Linked DNA regions of Homo sapiens. The protein of the gene in region 1 purifies or fractionates together with the protein of each later gene. This does not show direct contact. Each region holds a gene or a part of one and is shown in the gene's direction. Other genes may lie near its edges.

Region 1 (4,004 bases):
TTTGACAGAAAAGTCATGGTTCTTCCCTTTGAGAGTCCCCTGGCCATTACCCTTGCAGTGCATGTCCCACAGACCAGGAGGGCCATCTCTTAGGCATGGATCTCTTCACTCTTTGTATTTGTCAGCCATGCCAGGGCACTGGGCCTGTCATGGAGAAGGGCTTGAGGGAACAGTCCAGAAGCTGCCACTGGCTGAGACTTGCTTATGGGCTTTCATCATTCAGCCCTCAGGATGACAGCATAAGGGGGCTGTTTTATTACTGTCATTGCTTTAAGATGAAGTAACAAGGCTCTCAGGGGTTAAGTTCCCAAGAAGCACACAGCTAGTGAGAGCCGGAGCCAGAATCAAGTCCAGGTTTCTCCACTGCAAGGCCATAGGTTTAACTGTTACGTTGTCCTTCCTTTGAGCCAGCAGTTCTCAAGGTTTTGGGTCTTTGAGTTCCTTTATCTCTTAACAATTAAGGTCCCCAAAGGACTTTTGTTGGTTATATCTATGGAAATTTCCCATATTAGAAATGAAAAACTGGCCAGGTGCAGTGGCTCACGCCTGTAATCTCAGCACTTTGGGAGGCCGAGGTAGGAGGATCGCTTGAGCCCAGGTGTTCAAGACCAACCTGCGCAACATAGCAGACCCTGTCTCTGCAAAAAAATTTTAAAAAGAAAATAAATGAAAAACTGAGAAATTTAAAAAAAATTCATTTGTTCACAGTAATAACGGACTCAGTCGTTTTGAAAAATACTCTTTTTCATAAAAATTTTGGTGAGAAGAGTGGCATTGTTTTACATTTACATTTTTGCAAATCTCTTCAATATCTGGCTTAACAGAAGGCAGCCGGATACTAATGTCTGTGTCTTCACTGACACTATTTTGCTGTCATATCTTATACTCTCTGGAAAACTGAATATTTGTGAGAGAATGAAAATGAAAAAAGGCAAATAACTGTTTTCATACTAATCCAAATACATTTTGACCTTGTGGACACCTGAAAGGGTCTTAGGGACCCCAGCAGTCCCTAGACCACTCTTTGAAAATCTTCACTCCAAGCTTCTTATCTGCAGAGTGGTGCATTTGTAAATAACTTAGGCTGGAACCTTCATCAGTTTTCCCTGGGAGTACAATGAGGCCTCCCCTGCCCAGAGCCACTGGAATTGAGGCTTTCACAGCTGATTTGGGGGTTGATGGGGAGGGTGAGATTTTGGCAATCCCCTATTTATTGGTTTCCTTAAAAGCTTATATTTTGGAAACATTCGGGAAGAGGAAACCTTGTGTCTCTAGGAACTATAGATCCCAGAAATCAGGTACTGTCTTCCAGAGTCTCCGTTAGTCACTGTGGCATCTTGAAGGATCCAGCATCGATGCCGGCCTCATTTCCCAGATGCTTTGTGGTGCAGCACAGAAGCCCACTGTCAGTGTGACCTGTCTCTGTTTTGTACAGTATGGCAAATGTAGCACAGGGCCCATGATGGCTTTGGCCTTGAGCACGGTGGCTTTGACTGGAACAAAAGGCCGGGGAGCATGCTTGCTGTGGAGACGGCCTCAGCTCCTCACTCTGCAGAGCTTGGCCTTTCCTGCCATTTGTTTGGCCATTGCTGGTAGTGAGAAGCCTCTCGAGCCCAACAAACCAGTGTTGTGTGGTTGTTCATGTGCTTGATGGCTCTGAGTAAATGTGAAAGCTTGAACTTTGTGAGCTAAAAATACTGGTAGCTATCATTAAGTCCTCTGAGGCCTTTCTTTTTCTTCCTTTGAGAGGTACTTCATTCATATGATGTTAATGGTCTCTGGACTGAACTCTTCACGGTCTCCTTATAGGGAAGTATTTGTTCCCAGAGCAAAATTTAACCTGTAAGTTTCTTAATGGCAGGTGGCCGTTTGCTGAGTGATTCCTATGCCAGGATATCAATGAAGAATCCAGGGGCTGGTCGCAGGGTGTCACCTGAGTTACTGTTGTTTGGGTTTTCTTCTTCTCATATAGGAAAAATAAAATAATAGTAGCACATCAGAAAGTATGGCAGGGTTTTCCTTGGAGTCTCATGCCTTGTATTAAGGACTGTCTTCAGGGTCATTGGGATGAATATGTCTAGTTTCCAGAGTCACTGCAGTGGTGAGAGTGGTGGTGGGGAATCCTTGTGGTGCCTTAGGTCTGTCTTGGGAGAGGGGAGCAGAGTGTACTGCACCCTGAGGAGAACCCGGATTTCAGGTGTTAAGATCGAGATTTGTTCTTCCACAGACTAAGAGCTGGCTCAGGGCAGGAGCTGGTCTGTATGGTGTGTCCCCAGCCCCAGCACAATGCCTGCCCCCTAATAGGTTTGCAGAGAACATTAATGTCCAATTGGGTGGCCTACATCAAGTTTCAGACGGTGGAAACCCTTTTTGACAAAGCAAAGCAAGCTTAAAGCAGTCTCAGATGTTCAGATCTGTACATATTTCATTCTTTCTATTTTTGATTTTTCTCTAGTGACAAGAAAAGGAAGTTAGAGGCCAAACAAGAACCCAAACAGAGCAAGAAGTTGAAGAACAGAGAGACAAAGAACAAAAAAGATATGAAACTGAAGCGGAAGAAATAGTGAAGAGAAACTCGGGCATCTGTGTTTGATCATGGGAAGATACTCTCACTAACTGAACCCTCTCTGGCTGGACTGTTAAAAGCAACGAGAGGCCCCGGCACACCTGGAAGCTGGCCGCGAATTCGGCCTCTGGGCCTGTGTGTCTGTGAGCTCAACCTGGCTAAAGGCAGAGTCACTCCCAAATGGGTCTCTTTAGAACTTGATGGCTGGGCACTGCCATCTCTAGAATTGCCACGAGTCTCTCTCTTCCTGCCCAGTCCAGGGCCCTCCTTTCCTATAAGTTCATATTTTGCTTTGAGCCAGCTTTTTAGTCTCATTCCCACACATGTGGAAGCCACGTTGCCTCTCGACCGCCTGAGGCCCTTAAGTACATCGCTTTCTGGTGGTGCCCAGGAGGCTGCTGCTGGGCCGCTGGGTCTCTCTTTGTGGACTTGTACCTGGAGCAGGAGGAACTCCAGTCCGTCCCGGCATCCATGGCAGCCCGCGGTTAGGTGCGCCAGGGTTTGCTGATGTTGTCTTGTGCTGTTCCACTCTTGGCTCCAGCAGACCCACTGTCCCAGAAAAGCCTGATCCTGTAGTTTATGTAGAATGCCACATCTGCGTCCTCAAGACCTGTTTCATCCATTTGGGAAAAGATGTTGGGAAAGGCCACTTTGCTCGCAGGGGTGAGGGGAAGGATAGAGAATCTATTTTTAATAAATAACATTCTAGAAAGATCAGCTGCCTGTGAGTGTTCTGAAATCCACGCACCTGGACGTTTCTTCTGGTGGGTCTTGGCTGCCTGGTGGAATTTGGAAGGTGTTGGTATCAAGGTCAAAGGTGAGCAGTGTGTCTAGGGCTTCCCAGCCCAGGAGTCTGCGGGAGAAGTGGCAGGTGGCTATGGTCACCTCGAGGGGCTTGGTGTGGTGGCTGGAAGCCAGCTAGAACTGCCTCATTTCCTTCCCAGCTCCTTCCAGGTCACTTGGTCCCTTCCATTTGTTGGGAACAGAGGTAACCTGGTGGCTTTACACATACTTTGGTATGTTTGTTTAATGGTATCCAGGCTAATGAGTCTGCAGCCCCGATATGTTGTCTAGGTTCAGAGAAGGACAGGGAAGGAAACGGTAACTTCTCAGCCTAAGGGTATTTCATATACAGCTCCTAGGACTCGTCCCCACAGGGAGAAGAGCAGGTTCTGTATGCGACCCTAGGGCTGCTGAGGCTTGTCACCGAGGCTGTCAGGACATGAGCCTAGGGGTCTTTCGTTTCTTGGGACTGAAGTTTCCTGGCCACAGACCTCTGTTAGGTCTGTAGGAAATTTTGCTGGAGGCAGGGAGGGGGCATGAAAATAATTTTTATTTATTTTCTCAGGTGGGTGCCTGAACCTGCCTTTCAAAGAGGGTTTTCTTAGACCGTGGCCAGAAGCAGAGTCACATGCTCAAATGGTCAGAGCTGGATGGG
Region 2 (8,715 bases), on another chromosome or scaffold:
TGTTGAACATTCATGGAATTGTTAATATGACTTATATAGACCCACACAGGTTTTATTTTTGTGTCTTTAAAATAAAAGTCCAAAATATTTAAATTTTATGGTCAAATATGCAGTCAACAGCTGCTACTTTTTCTTTATATATTAAATTTCTCATATGTCTTTTATTGTTCTAATAAACCTAAGCTTGTGTGACCTCCAGTGCATATTAGACCATTCACTGTATGAAAGAAAACATGTTGAATAAATTTGTGAGTTTTTAATAAAAATAGAAAATCTGATGTTTAGATAATTGGTGTGTTATTTGATGTTTTCAAAGGGGAACCCTGATGGGGAGCTGAATGGGTCCTCAGAAGCCAGGTGGAAAAGAGAGGCAGGATTGGGATGATATATCTGTTTTTGCCTTGGCTATGGCTGAAACCTTTTGCTAATGCCAGCCAAGCTTTTCTCTGTGGCTTCCTGCTGTTATTAGCTACAGATTTACATCCTGTGGATTTAACTGATACCGTTGAAGAGATGTTTGCTGATAAGTTAATATAGAATTTGAAATAGAAATCAAATCCATGGCTAAAAAATGAGTGGTCCAGGTCTGTGATTAGGCATAAGATCCAAGGCATTCCCTCTTTCACTCTCCCTGCACATGCAAAACTGGGCTTGTATCAGATACTTGTAATACATAGTTAGAGGTGGTCCTTTTCAGTTTCATTTCATTTCCTATAGATAATCCGGCTTTCTAATTTGGTAGTTTGAAAGATAATGTAAAGGCTTTCTAATTTGGTGGTTTGAAAGATAATGTAAAATGAATGTATAGTACAGCTAGAAATGAAATACTTTAATCCCTTTCACAGAACTGATATGAAATTGTTGTTTTATAGTATTTGTTACCTTTGAAGTTCCCCAGAAGGAAAACTATTTTGCCTGGCACAAGATACATATTAAGTTTCTCTGAAAGATGAACAAAAATAACTAATATCAAAATCAAATTTCAACTCAAAAGGTTCTAAAAGTAGCTCGATTCTTTCCAGTCCTTCATTAGACTTGGAAGAAATTTGAATATTTTATCTACTATGAAATATTCTTGTGGATGTGTGTGTGTTTCAGTATCAGATGCTATTAGAGTTCCAGGATTTCTTTTCCATATCACCTAGATTTCACTCTGGATTATTTATTTCCTTATTTAAAAAGTCAAAGGTTTGACATTAAATGGTATATAATTTCCAGTGCTGTTTTCAAATTTTGTTAAGACACAGCCAAGTTTATCTTTCCTGCAGAGAAGGCTTTAAAATAAGCAATATTTCACTGCATCCATATGATGGCTTATCTAATGGGGGAGGAGGCTATCCGGGAGGAATCTGGCAGTGTTCTTTCAGAAATAAAAATGTATGAAATACAGAGGAGACTTTTGAAACTCCCAGCCTCTGCATGCAGCACATTTCTTTATTTGCTTTATATGCAATCACTGGATCGGCTTGTTTTTACCTTTTTAGCATTTATACACATTAAATCCTAGCTAACTTATTCATTATAGCCTCTACTCCCTAGCCCCCTTTAAAGACATTCATTTAAATGAACTGCGCTCACTGGGAAGCTGCATTTTCCTATCAAGGCTGCTGAATTATTTAGCAGCTTTATTGTGCAATCGGGGTATTTGATAAGAAGCGTTTTCGAGTTGGGCACACGATGTGGATTCGATTCTTCTAACAACGTGGTTGTGGCGCAGTCTCTCCCCTCGTCGCGGGATTCAGAATCCTGGCGAAAACCCGAACAGGTGGCAACGCTCAGCAGTCAAATTTGGAGCCGAAGGCCCCAAGGAGGAGGCCTGGAAATGTCAGGGCCTGTTCTCCTTCCCATCAGTGCTGTGCCGCCCACCTCTGGCCCCGAGGTGCGGGGACGTGCGGCACCATACCTAGGCGGAGCTCCCGCAGGAGGCGCAGCAGGAGGGAAGCGCCACTGCAGTCCCCTCTCGCCTGGGAGGGCAGCCTGGTTTCTCCCTGTGGCCATCTTAAAGCCACCACCTCTGTGCCTCTCGCCACCTGCCTTCAGGGTTCCAGCAGCAGGGAGCCACCATCTGCTCTGGCGAGGGAGCTGAAGCTCACCCACCCAACTTCTCCGGGCTGGCTGCCGCTGGTAAGCTGCTCTAGGTGAGGCACTTGGGGAAGTATTACCTGTGGAGAGCCAGGATAGGCATTGCCAGGGCTGGCACCTGAGGGTGGACAGCATCTGAAGAGAGGCAAGTGGGAACTTGGTTTTCCCAAACTCTTGAAACTCCTTGTCAAGTGAGCAGACAGTTGTTTGGGACAATTGGAAAGTGTCACCCCTTGCCCATCCTCTGCTGTGCCTAATCGCCTGCCACTTTGCAGCCCTTGGAGGGCAGGGAGAGGGATTGTGGACTGGGCGCCCCTCCGCCTTCTCTGGAGAAGGCCATTCTGTTAGGGAACTGCTCACCCTTATTCTCCTCTCCCTGTTCCTCTCATCTGCTCTCATCTCTACATCAGTCAGAGGTTGAAACTCCTCGCCACAGTCCACTCTCCATCTCCATCCCTACCCCATCAATAAGCCCTTCCCCCACCATCTCAAGACACTGGAATGCAGGTAGGGAGAGGCCCCCAGAGGGAGTATTTGAGAATTTGCTCCCCTGTCCCTTGCCTCAACTACTCTCAGTTGCATCTTAATTCCTAGAATTACTTCCTCTTCCCTCCACTCCTGGAGTCCTCTTTCTACCTTCAGTATAAGGTCAGGCAAACATTTTGGGGGGCCCTGGGATGTGTGTGACAGTAGAACGGTCTTGATTCCTTGCTAAAATGGCTTCCCAAGTCAGTAGGGACCAGGACAGAGAAGGGAGAGTAAGTAAACAGGTCTATGGCATTTTCTGCTGAGTGTTTGCCCAGCACAGCCCCCAAATTGACCAGCAGTGTCCTGTTTGCATGACAGCTTAGAGGTGGTCTCTGCAGTGACTCACCTCCCTTTCTCTTTTCTTCCTTCTCTTTACCTCAAAGGCCAGGTTTCTAAGCATTGTAAGTACCCAACATAGCAAGGGGATAGGATTGCAGGAGGTAGTTTCTTAAATGTGGGGTGGGAGAAACATTTTTGTCCTTTGAAGCCCCATGGCACCTTGTCAAGGAGCAAGGAACACACTTTTGCTTGGGAGGCCCGGACACAGGCACAAGACTGCAATTATAGAGGATAAACGAAAAACTGTTCTCTTAGGCTAAGCTCTCTTATGGATGGTAAAAAGCCGTTTTCTTCTCCTGAGTGCCCTGCCTAGCCTGGCATTCTTTTCCTTCCATGTCTGAGGGGGTTTACCCTCAGACAGGTTCTCCTTCCCCTCTGCAGCCCTGGTTGTCTTCATTCTTCAAGGGCCACTTTACAGGGACATGGAACAGGCTCCACTAAAGTGGTGTCCTCTTATTGCTCTTGGCCCTGAGGACATATGAAGATTGTGAAAGTCAGAGATCCTCTCTTCCCTTGGTTTTCATGGGAGACAGTAGAGAGCTGAGGGTTCCCCAGTTGTTCAGCTGTGGGATCCAACTGGCCCGGGCTGTACCCAAGGGGCACTGCCACAGTGCACCACTAACATCTCTTTTCTGGATCCTTTTGAGGCAGATTCTGTTTAGAGGGGTCTAGGTCTCTACAGGCAACCTCCAACAGATACCATAAGAATAGACCACTTTGTAGTCACACTTATCATCCCTTATTGCAGTTTCTGTTTACATGTTTGTCTACCCTCCTAGGCTGATTACCGTGGGGGGGAGAATCCAACTTACTTATCTTGTATCTTATCTAGCAGTGCCTGCCACATAGTGGGCAGTCAGGGAATGCTTGATGAAGGAAAGAGGATGTAAAGCGATTGTGTCTTTCCGTGTGCGGGGTGCAATTACATTTATACTATTAAGTCTTTATATTTTGAGTCTGTCCCTCTAACGGTAGACCTGTATTTTTCTGCATTTGTGCACCTGCTTAAGCTGCCTGAGCATGCCCTCATCTCTGAACAGCAAAGATAATCAATACCGAGGGGTATGCAGTGGAGTAATCCACACCCCACCCCCTTTCCCTTGCTCAGGCAAGGGTACTTAGAGACGCTACTGAAACTATCTTTAGCCACAGCGATTCCTAAGTATTCCCATTAAGAAAGACGCCAGCAGTCCGCCACACACTTACACGTGCATATCCCTGACATAGGATTCCCAAATCCTGGCCGCTGAAGGGCGGGAGGCGTGTGCCCGGCCTCAGACTACTATAAATTGCGAAATGACAAACCTGCTTTGGGTCCCAGTCTCTGCGTGCCCGAGTGCGCACCCGCGATTCGAGCAGCTTAAGCCCTACTCCCTCCTCCTTCCCAAATCAGCCACCGTGGGCCACGGCTACGCTATGCTTTATTCCTAAGCGAATCTCGCACAAATCTCGAGGCATATTTTGTACAAGGGGACACTGGCCGCGCGCATCGCAATCGCATCTCAGCGACAGAAGCGGTCACGTGCCTTGGCGCGCTTCCGCACCGCCCCTTCCCGCGCACTCGCACGCGCACGCGCACACGCGCCCATACGGCTCCAATCCCTTCAACCTTCTGCGCGCTTCCGCCTTCATGCTAGCAACGCCCGCAGTGACGCGCAGGCCCCGCCCCCTCCCGCGCGCCTCCCGGAAGTGGCCGGTCCAGAGCTGTGGGGTGGCCTCCGCGCGGTCTCTGGCGGAGTCGGGGAATCGGATCAAGGCGAGAGGATCCGGCAGGGAAGGAGCTTCGGGGCCGGGGGTTGGGCCGCACATTTACGTGCGCGAAGCGGAGTGGACCGGGAGCTGGTGACGATGGCGGGGCCGCAGCCCCTGGCGCTGCAACTGGAACAGTTGTTGAACCCGCGACCAAGCGAGGCGGACCCTGAAGCGGACCCCGAGGAAGGTGAGGCCGGACTGGGGCAGGCCACGTGCGGAGCGGTGGGCCAGGCCCTGTGGGGCAAGGGGGCGGCGTGGGAGGGGCGTGCGCGAGGCCGCCGGGCCTGCGCTCCTTCGCTTGGCGCAGAGGAACGTCGCCTCCCGCGAGGGTGGTCCCGGCCTCGGGAGGAGGGCTTCGGCTTCTTTTCACACGCACTCGAAACTTGGTGCTCGGCTGGATGGGCGGAACAGATCGAGGGCTCAGGCCGAGAGGAGCTGGTCTTCAGGTTTACTTGCTCCAGGCCTGTTGGAGGGAGCCAGAGAGTCTGCTAGCAAGTTGGAAGTTAGCTTTGAGGATGCCCTTTCTGGTATTGCGTTAGAAAGGAGGAGAAGAAAGTCGCATGTTTTTAATTCAGGTTGCCCTTCAAAACTAAGTTGGAGACTGATGGAAGGATTTTCTGGTGCTGTTTAAGTCTCTTGAAGTCTCAAGACACTTGTTCAGTGGCTGACGACTGAGACTCCTGTTCTGTAAGCTGATGTTCAGAGTCTAGCTGGGAGTAATCCCGCTTTAGACTTGAGTCGGAAGTGTGAGAAAGGGATAATAAGGAGGGATAAATGCGAGTGCTGAACCGTATCTTAGGAAGATCAGTTGAAGAAACTCGGGACTGTTTAGCCAGAATAAGCAAAGAAAACTCCCCAAAGAATGGGACAGAGTGAGGGGAGAACGTGATGACTGATTTAAGATATTGGAGCGACTGTCACACATTGAAGAGGAATTCAACTAGTTTGATAGGATCCAAGTCATAGAAATAGATCCCACTAGTAGATGCCAGGAGTCAACTTTCTGTTTAGAAACAGCAGTAAGACAGTGTTCTACTTTGGGAGAGAGTGAATTTCCTATTCCTGGAAGTTGGTGGGGATTTCGTAAAGGACGTTCAACTATGAGATAAATGGGTCGACCAGGGTTCCCGTTAAAGTTTCTGCTAACCTGGAGATTCTGTTTACTTTTCCCTCTCCCCCGACAGCCACTGCTGCCAGGGTGATTGACAGGTTTGATGAAGGGGAAGATGGGGAAGGTGATTTCCTAGTAGTGGGTAGCATTAGAAAACTGGCATCAGCCTCCCTCTTGGACACGGACAAAAGGTATTGCGGCAAAACCACCTCTAGAAAAGCATGGAATGAAGACCATTGGGAGCAGACTCTGCCAGGATCGTCTGGTGAGTAGACATTTTTGAATGGAACTCTTCTCTTCCCTAATTTTTTCAGGGTTAAAATCCTCCGGTCATCCCCCATGATCTTTGCAAGAGTAGTCTGCGGATCTTTTTTTTGAGACAGAGTTTGGCTCTTGTTGCCCAGGCTGGAGTGTGATGGCGCCATCTCGGCTCACCGCAACCTCCACCTCTGGAGTTCAAGCGAGGCTCCTGCCTCAGCCTCCCGAGTAGCTGGGATTACAGGCATGCACCACCACGCCCGGCTAATTTTGTATTTTTAGTAGAGACGGGGTTTGTCCATGTTGGTCAGGCACCCCTATCTGTTATCTTAGGAGAGACCATTGATTTGGTATTAGAAAGGGTCTTAGAGGTTACTTCATTTCACTTCATAAGGAATCTAAAGCCCAGAGTGATTAAGTTGCTATACTCCTTATGTTCGGACTAATGGCTCACCCTACAGTGGAGTGACAGAGAAGGCAGTGCATTTTGGCTACTGGAGAGGGTTATGAGCTGAAAAACCACTGTGTCTGATGAACATGTTATCCTTGAATTGTGACCCCTGACCTTTGGTTTTCCAGGACTTGCATTGAAGCACTGTGTGATATTAGTTATTTGTGAAACTCATTTTTTGCCATTCTAAAAAATCACATAATCCTTCTCTTCCCTGCAAAAGAGTTAGGAGTCTGTGCGCTTATAGTTTTAAAGAATTGTAAATTTCTCAGAGTGGAAGAAGGGGCTAGATATGGTGATTATTGGGAGAATGTCATTTGTTTTCCTTTAGAAAGGTCAGGGGTGTCATGTTGAGAATCCACAGATAATATAAAAGGAACTATCATTTAGGTTATGATATCTATGATTTAGTCCTTGATGTAGTTCTGGGAGCTCCTGATAAGCTCATTTCATATTCTTTGCCTAGAGACTGATAAAGGGACCAATCATGAGACAAATATGATAATATTTATTGAGTTCTTACCATGCGTCAGGCACTGAGTTTAGCTCTATAATTTAAGTTCTAAGAGCCTGGGACACAGTAAGTCCTCAAAAAAAAAATTATAAAATTACCTGGAATTAGACAGATTTTTATAAAAAATTATCACCATTATCACTACATGTGTCACCTAATTTAATCCTCCCAATTGCGCAGGAAGTTATTACTACTTAGCCCCATTTTACAGATAAGGAAATCGAGGGGCAAATTGGTTACATAAGTTTGCTCAAGGTCATATAGTTAGTAAGTGGAAGAAACATGATTCAAATGTAGGCTGTCTGACTCCAAGATGTACACTCTAGTAAACTCTGTATGAATGTTTCTTAATCTGAGAAATGGCGTACATTCAAAGAATTTAAATAATAATTTCTGTTTACTGTTTTGGCACTTAGTTTTTGTATTTATATTTTTGGCAGCTTTGTGTCTTAAGTTTATATATACCTTTTTAAAGAAGCGCTGAAGACCTGTCACGCTTTCCTAAAATCTTTATTTTATTGAAGAAAGTTTTTGGAAACTGGTCCCTCTATCTTAGAATCATACTTGAAACACATGGGGCTTTTATGTTCTACCATGGAACAGATTGGATAAACTGTAAAAACCTCTACATATCAGATGATACTCTAAGCATAAGTCAAACAAAGAGCCTTAACTAGCACTCTGTCTACTATAGGATCAAGTTCAGAGTCCTCATGAAAGACGAGACCTTTCCTGATTAGTCTCATCTCCCATCACTTCCTTGTGCATCCTGCACTCCAGTGCGTTTTCCCTTCATTATCTATGAGCTGTTGCCTTATGCTTCATAAGTAAAATTATAATGTCTCCTTCTCCACATGATACCATCCCCCACCTTTCCAGGAGAGTTAGGTGGTTCCATCTCCATACACTGTGTACTAATGACCTTGTAATATAATTATTGGCATGCATATCTACCACTCCCACCAGACCATGAACTCCTCCCAGCAAGTATTAAATTCTATTTGCCTTTCCTTAGCCCCTGGCTCATAATGAGTGCTTAATAAGTATTTAGTAAATAGGGCAGACGGATGTGATAGATTGTACATTTTTTCAGATCAGGTTTGGGAAAACTGGTAATTCTCTAACACCAGTTGAAATCTTACTGTTCTTCAAGGGCCAGAGCAAATGCTAGCTCTTCCTTAGAGATTAGCTTAAATTCACTTGCCCCACAGTTAAAATTTCTCACTCTTCTGGGTTATTGAAATTTTGTCAAAGCACTTCTGATGCTTCCTTGAGTTGTAATGTTGTGAGTCTGTCTTTCCCACTAGCTCCTTTTGTTAGGGTAGGACCCGTGTTCTATTCATCTTTGCTTCTCCCTTAGCATTTTGGAGATTGTAGATGTGTAATAAATATATTGTTGAATTGAGTGCAGTAAGAGATTTTCCCCCTGATGCCACAGTGCTTAAGTTGAAATGAAGTCTATGGCTTGGTATTTTCTCCAGGTAATACCCATTTTTCTCTTTCTTCCCTCTCTTCTTTGTAGATGAGGAAATATCTGATGAGGAAGGGTCTGGAGATGAAGATTCAGAGGGACTGGGTCTGGAGGAATATGATGAGGACGACCTGGGTGCTGCTGAGGAACAGGAGTGTGGTGATCACAGGGAGAGCAAGAAGAGCAGAAGCCACTCTGCAAAAACACCG

Evidence for each region. The genes of interacting proteins can lie anywhere in the genome.
Region 2: the proteins of NAT10 (region 1) and AATF purify together in Homo sapiens (affinity purification with mass spectrometry; 3 studies listed by BioGRID and IntAct, with this or other methods). This does not show direct contact.

The regions. Positions count from the first base shown.
Region 1 is NC_000011.10:34,143,629-34,147,632, forward strand, and holds the end of NAT10 (RNA cytidine acetyltransferase), read left to right. Parts: intron 1-2,455; coding exon 2,456-2,564; 3' UTR 2,565-3,280; downstream 3,281-4,004. UniProt on the Homo sapiens protein: RNA cytidine acetyltransferase that catalyzes the formation of N(4)-acetylcytidine (ac4C) modification on mRNAs, 18S rRNA and tRNAs.
Region 2 is NC_000017.11:36,944,329-36,953,043, forward strand, and holds the start of AATF (protein AATF), read left to right. Parts: upstream 1-4,625; 5' UTR 4,626-4,797; coding exon 4,798-4,888; intron 4,889-5,885; coding exon 5,886-6,077; intron 6,078-8,557; coding exon 8,558-8,715. UniProt on the Homo sapiens protein: Part of the small subunit (SSU) processome, first precursor of the small eukaryotic ribosomal subunit.